Linked DNA regions of Homo sapiens: region 1 is linked to region 2. The links come from fine-mapping of genetic effects on gene expression. A gene starts in region 2. The other region holds a variant in brackets. All regions are shown on one strand. Distances are between the middles of the regions.

Region 1 (8,347 bases), 250 kb before region 2:
AATTTTGGCAAAGGTTAAAAACAAAGGAGAATAGAAGAATTATTTTAAAATAAGAGATACCAACTGAATATGGCAAGTCTGAGTAAAGACTCAGAGGAGTGAATACTGTGGAATAATGGAAGAGTATAAAAGAGCTTGACACAGAAAAGAATACATAAGGGAGAAGAATACGGACAAAAAAATTTGTGTAAGAAAAATTTCAACTTTCATTCATTGTCACTGACTTTTTTACCAGGCTAGTGCTGGAAATAGATTAAAAATGCAAAGTAGCTGCATTAAGATTACTCATGATTTTGCTTTAGGAAAAAAATTAAACTAATTGTAAAAGTTATTAATAAAAGGTTTACATTAGATAAATGAAATGATAGGAGCCACAAACGTTATTATGCTTATATTTCAAAGATAAGTGATTTAGAATTAGTTTTTCATTTCAAATAATTAGGTAACCCTACTTTGCCTTGAAACAATTCTGTTATGAAGTTTGCAACAGAACTGTGTAGTATTCAATGATGAGAAACTGTCATTTTGGGCCTCTTTAGTGAAGGGTTGTTACGAGTCAGAGAAGCAAAGTTTTATAATTGAAAGTAAACAATCTTAGTCACTAAAATGATATTGTTATTCACCTCCACAGAAAGAATCATCTCAACAGCAAGACTGCATTACTCTTGTTCTATGCATGAGGAATTTAGTTTATCAATTAGTTTTTCTTTATCCTGAATGTGAGCCAATGTTTAATTGCTTCATATCCATAATTGTATTAACTATGAATAAATTGTTTTAAGAAAAAAATCTGCTCCGTGGCACAAAGGAGATTAATTACTAAAAGACAATAGCAATTCTTTGCTATCAATCAAAGATGCAGAATAGCATGGCTACCTAATGAGGATTCAGCTTCATTAACTTTCCTCAAATCTCATTTGTAATATGAAACATCACCATATATTCAATTCCCAGAAAGATAAATTTAATCAACCCAGTAGTGTGTGGATTTGTTTACACCACCCTTACCCATCATCCAACTGCAATTCCAAGTCCTTTTCAAACTGTAATACTTTCATACCAAATTTTTTTTGATAGAGCTTTGGGCCATTTTCAATAAAATAATGAAATCCTCCCAATATCCTTAAATCCATCACCATTTCCTCTTGGTATTATGAAAAAAAGAAATTCATAGAATCATATATTGTTAGAGACTGGAAGGGATCTTAGGAGTCATTGGATCTATCCCTATCATTTTACAGAATGACAAACTAGATTACTTAAAGAAAATTTCTCTTTGAGCCTTGAAAAGTCAACAGGAGCCATCAAAAAACATTTTTCTTAAAAGGGAGAGAATGCCATTGAATGACACTACAAAATTACAAAATATGTTCCATTGTATATGTATAGGTAAACAATTAACTTTTAATAGGTATACTGTTAATGGGGGCAATAATAAACACTATGCTGATAAAGAAGATAAAGGTCTTATGTACAACTCAAGAACGTCTATAATCTGTAAAGATTTTAGCTTTTCTCTCATCCCAAACTCACAATCCCCTTATTACATAATTATTTATACAGGATTTATAAAGAGAAATCAAAGAGTTAAGGGATCACAAAATTAGTAATTTGCCTTAATCATTATTAGAAAACACGTGCTTACTATACATTTATTGATTGTACTTTTTTAAACTTAAGTTACATCTTTGCATCTATTCAATATAATAATTCTAGCATGCTTACTTATTCAAATATAATTTATTTCCAGTCTGGGAAATAATTTTTCAAAAGCGATTAGTTTAAAAGATTTTTGTAGTATTAGCTTTCTGATAAAAGCTTTGAGAATTTCCCAGAGCAATCTGAATTTATCGAGCTGCTTTTCAGCAAAAAGGTGTTTAATTAGGTTGTCTCACACTTCTCTAAACCTGAAAACCTAATCACCACCTTATAACTCAAAGAACACAAAGGCAAGTTGCTTTGACAATTACCCCGTGTAAAATCTTTGGTTTTTCCTTCTACTCATTCCTAACTTCTATCAGGAAGAACTTTGACTTTACAAATGTTTTATATATTTTTAAATCAAAGGAAAAGTTAAAGAAAAAAATCAAAGTCATAACATGAATAAATAATTTCCTTCCTCTCTTGTTAGAGGCATACGTGTGTATGTGTTCATATAATCAACTGCAAGTATAAACAGACGTTTGAAAGCAGCAAATCAAAAACCATGAATAAAGTAAATCAAAAAAAGAGAAAAAGTGAATTATTTTATTAATGAATATATTTCAAAGAAATAGGCTGTAACATACAAGCTTAATGAGATACGCTTTTCTCTCAATGAGGTTTCATATTCATCTTAGAAATACAAAGAATGATTATTATCATCTATTGTGAGTGTAAGCACTCTATCATGCAAAGAAATCTCACCACATACTGTGGAAAACTTCTTAAAGTTGTATTTTCACAAATTCATGCATCTAAAAAAATGTTTGACTCTTCTCTATCCCTCTTTACCTTACTCTGTACTATCAGATACATAACTTTAGGCATGAAAATACAGTTCCTGCCCTCAAGAACTTTCAAATTTAATGTAAAGAAACAGAAAATGAAAAAAAAAACCTAAATAGAATGACTTTGTGTCCAAAAGTCATTTCATATTCAGTAAGATTCCAAACAAGAAAACAAGGTGGATATGACATAAAATCACTTAGTGCTGAGTGCCAAGCATTGTATTAGGTAATTTCACAATAACTCTATTAATAGGTATTACTATCACCATACTAAATGCTTAGAAACTCATTCAGAACAGGCCCCAAGTTATCTAGTTAACAAAAAACAGGGGAAATATATATATATATATATATATGTCTATATGTCTGTGTGTGTGTGTATGTGTGTTTGTGTTTGTGTGTGTGTGTGTGTGTGTGTGTGTGTGTGTGTGTGTGTGTGTGTGTGAATATAGAGACAGGTAAAAAGAATCAAGGGTCAATCCTTGAGAAATATCTGTGTATAAAGTAGAAAGATCAACAGAATCAGTGAAGAAAACAGAAATTAAGAATTCAAGATGTGTAAGTATTAAATGAACTCTCTTTGACTGAGCCAACTGCCTGGCAGATAATCCTATGTCTTCTATGCAATACTCTCTGTTGATTCTATGTAGATTTTCAAATGCTATTAACCTGAGCAGCTGTTCCTTTTTTTTTTTTTCCTGAAACATCTAACTTTTCTTCTGTAACTCTAACTAAACACACACACACACACACAAACACTATACATTTGATCTCCGTACTTTGAGATTGCTCCAGAATATATTATTATCTTGCATAGTACCATCTACCTTGACTTGTACAGAAAATATTAGATGGTTAATGATATTTTAGTCATAATTTCTTTAAAACAAAAAGTTATTTTATGAAGGTCGTCTTGAAAGCATCAGTTAAACTGGAACTAGATCCCATTTGTTCTAATTCCCAGTCCCCTTTGTCTGATGCTTCTTCTGCTAAAATACATTGGTAAGTGATGTGCTGTTCTCAAGGGGTCGTACAAGGATTTAGCCGAAGCTTTATAGTTAGCTTTGGAATGAGAATTGCACTTTACCCGGGCTTCAACCCCTCATAATTCAAGTAAATAAGGCCAAACAGGTACGATAAATAATTAAATACTATTAATGTTAGACACAGTTTGAAATTTTTCTGAAGATACTTTGAACAATGCACATTTACAGATTACCTACTTCTTAAAATTACTAATGGCAACATCACAATAAAAAATTAATAGCTTCTATCATGTGTGTCCAAAATAGTCCCGGGCAAACTGACAAATATCTGGGATATTTTAGCAGTTTTTGGAATTAACAATAATTGCTATCATTGTAGTTTGCCAAATCTTTTGAGATGCGTGGGTTTGTGGAAATATATTTAAGTCTAAAAAGATTAAGCGTGAACCAAAATGAAATGTCTCATTTTTTAAGTAGATTTAAAAATAATTAAATGAAACATTTATTACACTTGAGCACACCATAATCTATGGAAATGCATACTATATTGAAGTGAGTACAAAAAAGTTAAGGCATTGCATTTTATGGTTAGATTTTTCCGAATCACTTTTACAATGTTTCGCAGGTTTGCTGAAATTTATCTTCCCCCCAACAAGCGAAATTCAGTATTTGAAGAGTAGGCATTATTGAAAACAAATTTGTTTAACATAGTAGCCAGTTACATACTTGATATGTTTTGTGTTTGTCTTGATTAGCTGCTTTACAACCTGAAAATTCATTTTGTGGTGCTGAATAAAATCAAAGAACGTATTTACTTACAAATAATGGCTTTCAAAACATTCCCTTTATCTATTATGCATATTTTATCAACTTTATGTCATATTTTTAAAAGCATCATATCTGTATAATTGCTTTCATGGTGCACTGGAATCCCACTATAATAATTTTGGCATCAAAATTATAAGGCTACATTGTTGTTCTGGTAACGAATCTCCTTAAAGGAAGTAGTTTGTGTTGAATTAAATTTCTAAAGCTAAATGACTTTATTAGAGTAAGATTTCAAAGTAGCTGCTAAAAGCTGTGTGTATTTCTACATGAGTTGGCATGAGCCAGTGACAGAGTGTGAATCATTCTCCCATCAGCTGCTCCGTAGGGCTGGGTTATCAATTATCATAAGCAACCTCCAGTTGGTAGTCAAGCTATGGCTCAAGAGCTCCGGTGA[C/T]TGTCTCAACCCCACCCTTGAAGATAACAAACCTCATTTTGCTTTGTGCCAAAAATGACAAACTCCTGCATGTTCATGCAGGGATAGCAAAATATGTCCTTATTTCTTATGCTGGAATGGCAAAAAACAAAACAAAAAAGTTTCTTCTCTTAATGATTTGTGTGTATGCTGGAGTATGCATATGTAAATACCAAGCAAGAGTTGAAGTAGTTACATAGTGGATCTCACATCCACTTTTCTTTATATCTTCACTTTTTTTAATGAATAATAGCTATTAAACTAAAGTCCAAGCTGAAACATTCTAAGTTTTAATGAGAAGAGAGGGCAAACAATACTCTATCATGTTTTCATTTGACATTTATATATATTACGATATATTTTAATGAAAAATTAATTTTGAAAACATCTTCAGATTTGGGGAAAGGGCAGCAGTAACAACAATGTCTGGCAAAGGTCAGATCAGGGAGAAGAGATAACAGTAAAATTATCTGTGAGGAAGAACTGGAAAACCTACGATAAGAAATAACTCTCAAGTGCATTCTAGAATGAAGTAAGAGTCTGTGAAAATACTTGATAATGAAAGGTAAGCAGTATTGTACTTTCACATCTATCCAGCACAAGAATGGGGGGCGGGGGAGATAGAGACAGAGACTGAGATTCCAAGTAGTCATATGAAGATAATCGTAATAGGCACAGACAGCACTTTAAGTTGCACTCTTTTATCTTTTACAGAAAATGTTTCATGTGCAATTCTGTTTCTCTTTCTAGTGACATATACTTAAAGTATCTTTTCAGATTTATATTTTATCTCAACTCAATGATTCCATTACCAATTAATTTTTGTTTACAAAATTATTTAACCTATACTCTGTTAATGACACTGCAATTAGTACCAGGGATACAGATTTAAAAGAGAGTCCCTAGATTATAGAACAGTCTCATAAGGGAAATAGATGAGACCATCACTATCTGGGTTGATGCGTGATGGGATGGAAGTGAGTGGTGTGCCGTAGAACACATAAGGTAACACTTCATGTAAAATGGGGTGGGATATGGTATTAGGGAAGGTTCCATTGAAAAGGTGATTCCAAATAAAGATTCAGGAATCACCTTTGGTGATGAAGGAAGGAGGTCCAAAGTATATTGATACAGCACAGATTGGAGATTGGAGGGATAGTGGTGAAAGATGAGGGTAGTTAAATAGGAAACAAATATTCTGTTTAAAGATCGTGCTTACTATTAGAACTGGATTTTTGTTTTTAGGTCTGTAGAATATTGTAGGGACAAATAAATTGCCTTTCTTCTTTGCCAGGTGAAATCTCCTGTCTCTAACCCAACATGTTATCTCTCCCAGAGTCTATAATTTCCTAATCAATTTCATGTATTTAAAAAAAAAAAAACCCTCTGGCCTAACAAAATCTCTACCAAATTGAAACCTTTCAACCCTTTCACAGCTTGGCCTGGCTCACCCTGAGAAGTTCACAGAATAATCTGCACCACAGAGTCATAGCTCTGTGACTACCATCCCACACTTTTGCAACTCTTAATGACTGGATCAGAGGAGGGAGGATAGATAATGGCAGAAAGGGTCTTAACTCAGCTGCAGAGAGTTACACTTTGCAGTGGGTGGGTGTAGAGAAATTCTAGTGCTGACTGTCTCCTGGAAAGCTTTTGCAGTTCTGCAGAAATTCCCACTTTGGGGTTATCTAAATGTAGTCACTGAGCAATTGTGATTCCTTCCCCAGCTACTCAGTGAGCCTGTCCATAAAATCTGGATTCTACTAATTTACAACCACCTCTTTTGGTTGGAGACATCTTGATCCCCCTACCCACAGCCAACCAACTATCCTCTTTGCTTTTTATTACATAGCTTCAAAGTAGAAGATTAGCTAAGGTTAGAACTAGATTTTGGAACCATTTTGCAAGTCCATATACATGGTCTAATAACTCTCTTTAAAGTAAGGATGTTTGGCATTCATAACCACTAGCTTTGGGGCCTAGCCAAAATTTCCAGACAGGAAGAGTGCCATGTTAACAACCAGTTTACTACACTATGAGGTTTGGATTTTGTCATAAAGACAATGCTAGAAGAATTCTATGGGGGATGCTTGAAAAGGCAGACTAGCTGGACACACCTGAGGTGGGGATTCCTGTTGGATAGCTACTGCATTGCTACAGTAGGGAGAAAACGACAGGATCACAGATCTAACTAGTGCCATTAGGAATGGTGCTGTGGAAAAAGATTCAAGAAATACTAAGGAAGGAGAATTGAGATGATTTAGGCTTGGAGCTTGTTGTTTTAGTTGGTCTGTTTGTAGATTTGTTTGCCTTAGAGGAAGCACAAGAGAAAACAGGGACAGTTGATGGAGGGGAGCAAAGTCATTAGAGAGTAAGGAAAAAGACTGAAATAACAAGAGAAGATTGTTAGACTTGAACAAAATAGACTCCGATTTATATTTGTCAGAAATAAGAGAGATAGATAAAGACGATTCAGGATGAGAATAGTCTGGGCAAAGAAACTGAGGTAGTTCTCATCTGGTACATTTTTTTTTTTTATATATGTGAATAGAGGATGGTTGCCTTAAAATGAAAGAGGATATGGTAGAGTGGGAGAAAAGTAATACAAATTTGAAATAATACACTTCTTTGGGGAATTGAGCAAGGGAATTATCTAAGAATAAATAGATTTTACACTCTTCAATTTTCTGAGGAAAAGTATCCTTTTCTCATGTAATTTTTTTAAAGTCAAAGTACTGAATAATAAGAATCAGTGAAAAATTGTGGCTAGTTTAAGCATGTTGCTATCAAATAAATGCCTTAATTGTTTTGACACAGAGAAGAAAATGTGTCTCCAAGGTTACATCGTTGGATATGAAAATTTATAGAAAAATTAATCTTTACTAAAGATTACTTAATTAGGAACATTGTTATTGTGACAGAATATATTATATAAGAGTATTCAGAAACAAAACCTAAGGTTTAAGGAAAATTTATGAGATGAATAGGAACAGGAAATTTTACATTTCACCCTATCAGCGGTTCTCTGAATAATACATCTGATGTTTTAAGCACTCCAGAATACATTTCCAAAATAAACTGATTTTTCTAATTCAAGATTATTAGAAATGTTTAAAATCATGTATGTGCTACAACTTTGTAACTATAAATCATAACATAAATGTAAGGCATTATACCACAAAAACTAGAATTGACAGGCATATAATTTTCTAGTATATGGGGCTGAGAAATGAATTACAAATGGTCTTTTTGTTGTATGGTAGAAATCACTTTTAATGCAGTGTGATGTGTCACAAGCACTAAAGAAATAACAAGGCTTTGATAATCCTGGTCATTCTCCATAAATTCTGTTGTTACGTGGCATGTGCCTCAGGGACGACACAGACAAGTTACCAGTTTTCAGAAGAATTAAACATTCAGCTACAATTACTTTTAACATAATATGCATGAAAATAACATTTCCAAGAAGAAAATTAAGCATATATTTTCTCCTTCTAATGTCTTTTTTAAACTATACAAACACACACACACACACTACCATGTGTTTTAATTATATCTTATCTTGCTATCCCATCAGTTATATTTATGGGAAATGTGCATATATATGACATTATGCACACACACACACATAT
Region 2 (8,347 bases):
TCTTTTAATAGAAATAATGGACCGTTGTCATTTTAATAACAATAAAATGTTACTTTTTTGAAATACTGAAATTCTGATTTTTTTCCCAAAATGTTATGTATACTTACGTTAGAAATGCTTATGTCCATACATATAAGACATTAAATGAGATCAACAAATTGCATGATTTGCCTAAGATATGTTTCATTTTACCCATTTAAATCTCCAATTTAAAGTTATAAATAGCTTGAAGACATGTGCTAGGAAATTCTTGGAAACTTGCATCTATATTGAGAAATAGGGAAATCAAGAGAAACCTTAAGAGGTGCTTTATATAATGATACTCCAGAGAATATGTAAATTATATAGTTTGTTATGAGCACTATTGTAAAAATTATTTGTAAAATTTCTCAATGCATTATTGTTTATGAATATATACTCCTATATATACTAAATTTTAGCACAATAATAATTTCCATATGTTATGTTTTTGTAAAAATTTACTATGTGTAAACCCTAGAAAGAAGAGTATTTTATTGTTAGTTTTATCAATGTTGGAGAAATAACAGAAAGATGTCTACACAGTCAGTTTGTTGTGAAGAAAACAACTGTAAAGCTCTTATCTATTGTCAAAATGAACCACCTACTTTATATTCAAATTTTATGTATATTTATTAAATTAAATTAATGAAAGCCATGGGAGGGGGAGATAATAAAGGCACATTTCATTTCCCTTTAATAAACCATAATATGCTTAGATTCTTGTATTTTCTTACATTTTTTTCAAAAATTATATCCATTTCAGTCTGCTTAATTTTCATTCAAATGCCAATCCAAATAGCTACACATATAGCTATGTGTAACATTAATAAATTTAACATAATATTACTACTTACGTGGAAAAATATATCTATTGTTGCATATTTTAAAACATACATCTGTGGAATAGTAAATGTTATATGGTTAAGCCGATGAGAACAAAATTAAAGACTTGAGAAAAGTTTATTAATGTTCACTGTTTCAGGTTTTATTTTACATTTAATATTTTATCTCATAATTGATCATATGGCACATTTCCTTGTGTATGTAAAATGTAAACAGAAACTGCTGACTTCAAGTGAGAATAATTATGTCACTTATAATGCATGGAACAGATATCCATTACAATATCCTGACATACAAAATTTCTCCTTTATAGCCTTAAATACAAATTTCTCTAATAACAGGAAAAAAAAATATCCTAAGTAATTAAAGCCAAAAGTACTATACTTCTATGAGAATTTATGCTTATTTCCTGTGGATATCCACAATTCTTAGTTTTATATTTATACCATTGTACACTTTATATTAAAATCCCTGTATACCAATAGGCTCTCAGCCAATTATTGTAGACTGACTGGCATTTTGATGTGACTGAGATAAAAGTTTGATATTAACAGTTATAACTATATATTTTTTAATTGCATTTGTAAATAGATTCTAAAATTAAGGACAAATTTAAATTACCATTATAATACTGGCTATCACACATGTAATTCTAAATATTAAAATAGAAGTCTTTTAACATGTGACAAGAAATTATTTCTAGAAAAACGGACAACTACCCTTTTTGAAAGCTACATTTTAAAAATACCAATACGACATGTGCATACTATAGCATAAAAATGATATATTTTCCATTTATATATCAACCAATACACATTATGTGGCTGCTACCATATCATGTATTTATGTTTCACACCTTAGGGAGACAAACATTTCCAAAAGAAACACCTAACCCAGAGAAATAATCATATCAAAATTTCCTTGTCTGAAAAACATCTATTTTAGTGTTAACTCTTAGAACAGGTTAACTACTACTTTAATCCAAAAGAAAATTTATATTAGAATGTATGTTAAACAGGAGAGCAAAAAATGAAAGAAGATACTTAACTGACACATCATTTGTTTTACCATAATAGAATTTAAGCCCTTCACACAAATGTAAACACTCTATATTTTTAAAAAAAAACTTTGAACTACTAATTCTAATTGAAGTCCAACTCCAATTAGTGCATAATTAATTTTATAGTGTGTGATGGCATGCTCTTCCTCTTCAGCTGATAAAAACTTCTTACATTACTTTTTCTGTGAAAAATGAAACTGGCAAAAAAAAAAACCCAAAAATATTTACTAATGATTCCGAGAGAAATTTACATACAGAAGCATAATAATTTGCCTTTATTGACACTACAGTCTTTGCACTCAGTTTTTATAAATTTGAAATTTTCCCCCAAAGATTTGAGATTTGTCCTGATTAAACAGTGCATATGAATTCTTTTCTCGAAAGAAAAGCAAATGGCACATCTTTATGAAAAATATTGCATTTTTTAATTTCATAAAGTTTATTCAGAAATCTAACATGAAGTACAAATGTCAACCATCAGTTCTTTCCTCAGAAGACAGTGTTACTAACTTTTCAAATGAAAAACTGAAGATGCAGAAGGCTTCCAAAAATATTGTTAAGATTACCTACAGGAGATTGACTTCGCTCCACAAAACCTTTTATTAAGTATTTCATTCATTAAATAATCAATGTCTTATATAATTTGAAAATATCTTGAATTTTCATCGTTAAAAAAAATTTCAGATCCTTCCAAAGAAAAGAAATTGTGATGTCCTACTTCCCATTTTAACCCACTATATATACTCTTTCTTGTGTCTAGTAAATTTCTGACCATGAAAATTGATTTACTTATAATTTTAGGAAAGCATTATTGCAGATGTTCTTCTTAACAATAAGGATTTTTACATTAATATTTTACCACAGTATGTTGAGGAATAAAAGGTTGTATTTTGTTGTAGTTTTCCCCAATGGTATGATGATGTATCCCCTCCCATGATAAAAATATTGATAAATTGTCAGTTAAAAACAACACTGTAAAAATGAGTAATCGGAACACATTTAGGAAGTGATTGTTTTTTAAAGAGCCACTTATTTATTTGACACAGAATGCAAGCGACTCATTTGAGTTCTCACTTTACAGGCCAAGCAACAAACAGACTTAAAAAATTAAATGGAAGTGTGATGCCTTAATAAGAGTAAATAATTCTGAAGCATCCTTAGGGTGATTCTTACTCTTTTTATGTTTAAAAATATCTGACTGGAACATCCTGCCAATTAAACGAAGATCTCCAGATGGCATTTACCCTTTTGCTTCATAACAAAAAGGATCTGCAATCAGTTTTATGGAAGATTATCTAAAGAGGAACATTACTGTAACTCAATGACAACAAAAATTAGACACTCCCCTTCTCCGGGATAGAATGTGCATCCTCCAGATTCTTGCACTGACACCTAAGGTAATAAATACTTAAAACTGAATCTTAAATAATAGCCGCAGGATTTCAACCGCTAAAGATTCACTGTTACTTTCCACCAAAAACTCCTGTATTCAGCACTCAGCCAACAAAGGACAGCAAGTAATTCCCAGCAGCATAAATACCGGGAAAGCTACCTTGGGCTTTGTTTTTGTTATGTAAAATGCATTAAAGTGACTCATCCACTTAAGATTACCTACCTTTAGAAGCTTTAAAGAAGCTCCAAGAACCAAAATAAATGCTTTCCCAGAATGCCGGATAGGCTATTCGGTGCATTAAAAAATATGTATATATTTATATGTGCCATTGAGTTTGATTCTATTTTGCTAAGAAAGGAGAGAATTATTATTTTTCATTCCCTTCCTGTGGTGTGACTATAGCTACCTATAAGCCCTCTATTTCCAGAACAGCAGCGAGGTTTTTAAAAGTTATTTTAGAAATGGTAAAAATAAAAGAAAATTTGTAGGAGACTGGAAATAGTCCCTCCTTCAAAGAATAGGCTCTATTCATTTGAAGAACAGGGACCGCGTGTCTGCCGACACTTAGATGTTTCAAATAATGGGTTGGGGAGGTTGGATCGCGTGGTCCCAGTACCTGCGAGCCCCCTGCGTGGACAGCACGCTCGGCCGCGGGGAGCCAGCACGCGTCTAATCGGAAGGCTGTCAAGTGCATCCAGTAACGTGGGATAAAACGAGTTTGGGCACTACAGCAATTAAAGAGCATCTCCGAGGCCAAGTGCGGGGGAAGTCCACGCTACCTCGGCAAGCCTGAAATTACCTGTTTGTAAATTACCCAACCAAAACATAACTTTTTATTGAACTGGGTTGAATCAGAGCGGGTGAGCTGGCTGGAAACTTTTTTCCCCAGTACGGCTGCACTCTGAAGTCTAGAGAATCCCGTTAGAGACGGGCTGAGACGCCGCGAGTCGTCGGCGGGCGCTTCCCGGGACAGTCGGCCCCCAGTGCCCGGCCCCGTGGAGGCGCCCGAGACGCCGGTTCGGGACGCATTCCAGCGGCGAGCGGCGCGCACCGCCTGCCCGGCGTCTCCGCATCCGAGCCTGGCTCCCCGGCCGCTCGCTCCCCACCCCCACGGGCGGAAAAGCCCCGCGACTCGGGAACCGACCCCCACCCCCAACTCCCGCGGCGCCCCTCGGCCGGCGCTCCCTGCCCGGCCCGCCGACTTACGTGACGGCCGAAGGGAACGGCTCCTCCGACGAGGGGCCGATGAGCAAAGATTGGAAAAGTGTCAGAGTCAAGGCCAGCAGGCAGCCAGCAGCCATCTTCGCGATCGAAGATCAATGCCCCCTCCCTGCCCAAGCGGGGGAAGGAGCGGCGCTGGAAACCGCGGGCGGAGGAAGAGCAGCACACGCCGCCGGGACCGCGGGCGTCTGGAGGGCTGGCTGCGCCCGGGGCCCGAGGCGCGGAGCCGCGCGGGGGACGGCAAGGGCGGGAGCGGACGCCGAGGAAGGGGCGGTGGCGGGCGGACCCACTAGCGTGCGTCGGCTGCTCCGCGCCGCGGCCGCCTTGCCTCCGCCGCCATCAAGGGCGACTTTGGAAACAGACCTCGGCGAGCCCGCCGGCGCTCGCGCGCTCTCGCTCTCCCTCTCGGTTTCCTCCCTGATTTATTCCCCCGATTGCCGAGGCGAAGGCGGAGGCGGGGGCGGGGGCGGAGGAGGGGTGACGGCGCTGGAGGGTGGGGGTGGCTGCAGGAATCGGGGAATGGCAGGCAGAGAGACTTGTGGAAGCGAGAGGCTCCGTCTGGCTTCTTAGGCAAGTCAGAGGGAGGCGGCTGGGGGTGGGCAGCGGGAGGGCTGGGCGTCAGAGCAGTCGGGCGGAGACGGGCCGGGAGCAGCCCTCCATACAAGGCAGCCAGGAACTCCCAAAGTCGGCGCCGGCTCGCTCCCGCCGCCCGGCGTGCGCAGGCGGAGCGGACCAGCCCCGCGGGGCTCCCGGGGGACGGCCAGCCGCCCAGCGGGCATCCACAGGCTGCAGAGGCTCCAACCCAGGACTTGGCTCGCGTCTTCGGGGGTTATTTTTGCACATGCAGGCAGCGTTCCCCCCCAGCCCTACTCCCAGGCGCAGAATCCAGTGCCTGCCTGGGAATCGTGAAGTGATTTGACAACAAATGTAGGAGGGGTTTGTATTGCATTTTAAAGCACCACTGTTGACTCTCTACCAGGTGGCACTATATGCCCGCGTGTGCCATAGGTTAGAGCCTCTGCCGGGGCTGGGTGCCCTTTGTGCCAGCGGTCCCACGCCCAGGTACTGCTCGGCTCACCTGGCGAGGACAGAGCCTCAGGGACCGGGCTGTGGACGGACAGAGAAGTACTGACGCTGTAAAATCTTCCCAGCCCTGTGGTTCCATTGGACAGAGGGGTGGAGGGACGAATTCTGCATCTAGGGAGGACAGTAGTAAGAGAAGCGCTTTGCAGCATCCCAGTTGGGACTACCTCCAAAAGGGTCCTAACGCCCTGCTCTGGCCACTGGCCTGCCCTGCCTGACAAGGTTACCGCAGGGTGAGCTCACTTTTGTCAATGCGAAGGCATGAAAAGGGTAAGCAGCAGGAACAGGTGGCACTCTGAGAAATGCGCCTGAAATGTAGAGGAGGAATTAAGGGAGGGGGAGAGAGCTAGGGAGTAGCAATGCCGGACTGGTTTTATCTCCAGACTCAGAGGAAGCAGTGGCGGGCTTTCTCCTTGAAAAGACAGGGTCTGCGACTAGGCCTCTCCCGCCCAACACAGGCCTCCTACAAGAGGGCCCTGGTGGGCCAAAGATAGAAATATATTCTTGCACACCTTAAATTCTTAAGCTCCCTCTAGTAGTGTATGAGAATACTTTTGACATGACGTGCAGAGAATACAATTTGTGATGACTATCCTGCATATGCAAAAATTCTGTAAGTATCGGGGTGGCTGTCAGATTTTTAATTAGCCCGTTCTTATTTTTAGGAGATGCTTCTGAAAGAAAAAGACCCTTATTAATTCGAAATGAATTTTCCAGCTCTCTGAAGGCAATCTCCCAAAACAAAGACTAATAATAATACTACTACTATTAATTACTGGCCAAATTTTAAGAGCGTGTGTGATTTTATGATGCTTAGCCTGGTGAATTTATTTTTCCTTCCCACTTATTTCTCCTTTTTTTAATGCCTTATTTGTTTTCTTTATGTTCTTCGCATCTCTGTCTTGCTCTTTGTTTCTTTCTACTCTGAGTGGCCTCACAAAAGGCACCCCACCGTGACTTAACTTAGTTTGTTTTATGCTAGGCATGGATACTGTGGCAGCAGGAGCTGCGCAAATGAGGGATGAAGTGGGATGTAATGGGATTGAGAACTACAGCTCAGGAGGGATATTTTATATAACTGAAGATAGCATTCCACTCCAAAATTAGATAAGTAAATAGTCAAATCCATCATTTCTTCCATTTTTAATAATTCAAAAGCAGACTTTCTTCCCCAGCATGAGGACTAAGAAGAGCAGAATTAGAGATGCCCATTATTGTCTATGTGATATGTTGGTATCAATAGCCTCACTACCTAAAAATACCATTGTTATATATTCTGTCAATTATTTCAACATCAACTCCAGACTTCCCACTATGGTACACTGTTTCCAATTTTATATCTTTAGGAGAAAGGGCTTAAAGAATAAAAGAATGTAATAAGCTTGTAGAGAAGGTAAGTCAGCCTTTATTATTAACTTTGTTGGCCTTTGAGCCAAATCTCAATTTCTTTGGATCACTCTGTTGAAGCACTGAGTTCTCCAATATGTGAAGCTGTTGAGGAAAGATATTGCTTCTACAATTCTTACTGAAAGGGTTGGTTATCATCTGTGAGCCTAAATCATTGTTTAATACTCTGTTGCGAGGTTTGCTATTAATTGCTTTTTACCAATCTAAACCTTCTTATTGAGGATATTCAAAATGTGGTTTTTTTTTAAATGTATGACAGCTAAAAGAAGACCATTTCCATAACATAGCATTAGGTTTCTGTTGGATTAACTATACCCATAACAATGCATTTTTTCAGCTCAGTTCTGTTATTTTGGAAAATTCCCTTAAAATCAGATTATATCCCATTAATCTTAATAAAATTTTGCTTAATCACGATAAATTTGCTGTTCAACATGTTGACAAATCATAAGGATTGTTGTTAAGCTGTTATAGTAAATGATGTAAATGTGCAGTAAATACAGTTAATATATTACAGGTTATAAATGAGCAAGAAGTCGCAAATCAGTATCTACTATTCATTTAAGAAGAAATATTTTAATTAGTAAGTTAGTGAAGTATTGCAGGAGATTTTTGCATTTAATCATTTCTAGAACAAAGTTTAAAGAGATTTAATTCATGCAAATCACTGACCTTTACCTACAACAAACTTGCGATTGGCACCTTTTGGCTAAATCTCAGTTTTTAATTCATATATTTAATTTGTTCATATACATTTCATTTTTTAGTAACTAAAAGTGAATAAAGAACAATAAAAACTTGATTGCCATGAAATGTTTATTCTTCCTTTTTTTAGGTGATACTGTGAATGTTGGCAGCATAAAATTATGTTTTTGTTGTAGTTTTTATATGAGTATATGTATGTACAAACATTTTTCTGTGATTTTTTTCAGTAAATCAAATCTAATTTCTTCAACATTTTGCCTGAAAAAATGAGACAGAGTAACCTAATTGAAATTATTTAATCTTTCTCTCTTTTTGTTCTCATGTACAAACAGGCAAACCCAAACACTGAAAAGGAAAATAATTATCCTTAGCCAAAAAAATTTAAAGGAAATAATTAACTTTCATATTACTTTCCACATCTTAAGAAAACTAAGGTGAAAACCTTGACAAAGGGCCTTATTTGCTTGTATGCATATAGGTGTATATGACTCATCTCTGAGATAGACATACTGTTAAGAGTCATAATCAGAAAAACTTGTGATTTGAGATGGTACTATGCTTCCATGCACACAAAGATGTGTGCCAGAGAAAGTGAAAAGTAAAGACAAATGGAA

Evidence for each region.
Region 1: its variant is fine-mapped to the expression of CACNA2D1 in sun-exposed skin (GTEx, PIP above 0.99). The same link has a PIP of 0.9 or more in unexposed skin.

The regions. Positions count from the first base shown.
Region 1 is chr7:82,189,577-82,197,923 of GRCh38, forward strand. The region is part of intron 3 of CACNA2D1 (calcium voltage-gated channel auxiliary subunit alpha2delta 1); the gene reads right to left. Among named protein-coding and RNA genes, the nearest start is that of CACNA2D1-AS1, 180 kb to the left of the region's middle. The variant C/T (reference allele first, on the strand shown) is at 4,698.
Region 2 is chr7:82,438,842-82,447,188 of GRCh38, forward strand. It overlaps CACNA2D1 (calcium voltage-gated channel auxiliary subunit alpha2delta 1), which reads right to left and starts at 4,936. Exons shown (of 39, transcript NM_000722.4): 1 at 4,524-4,936. The coding sequence starts at 4,618. RefSeq lists an enhancer at 3,378-3,941.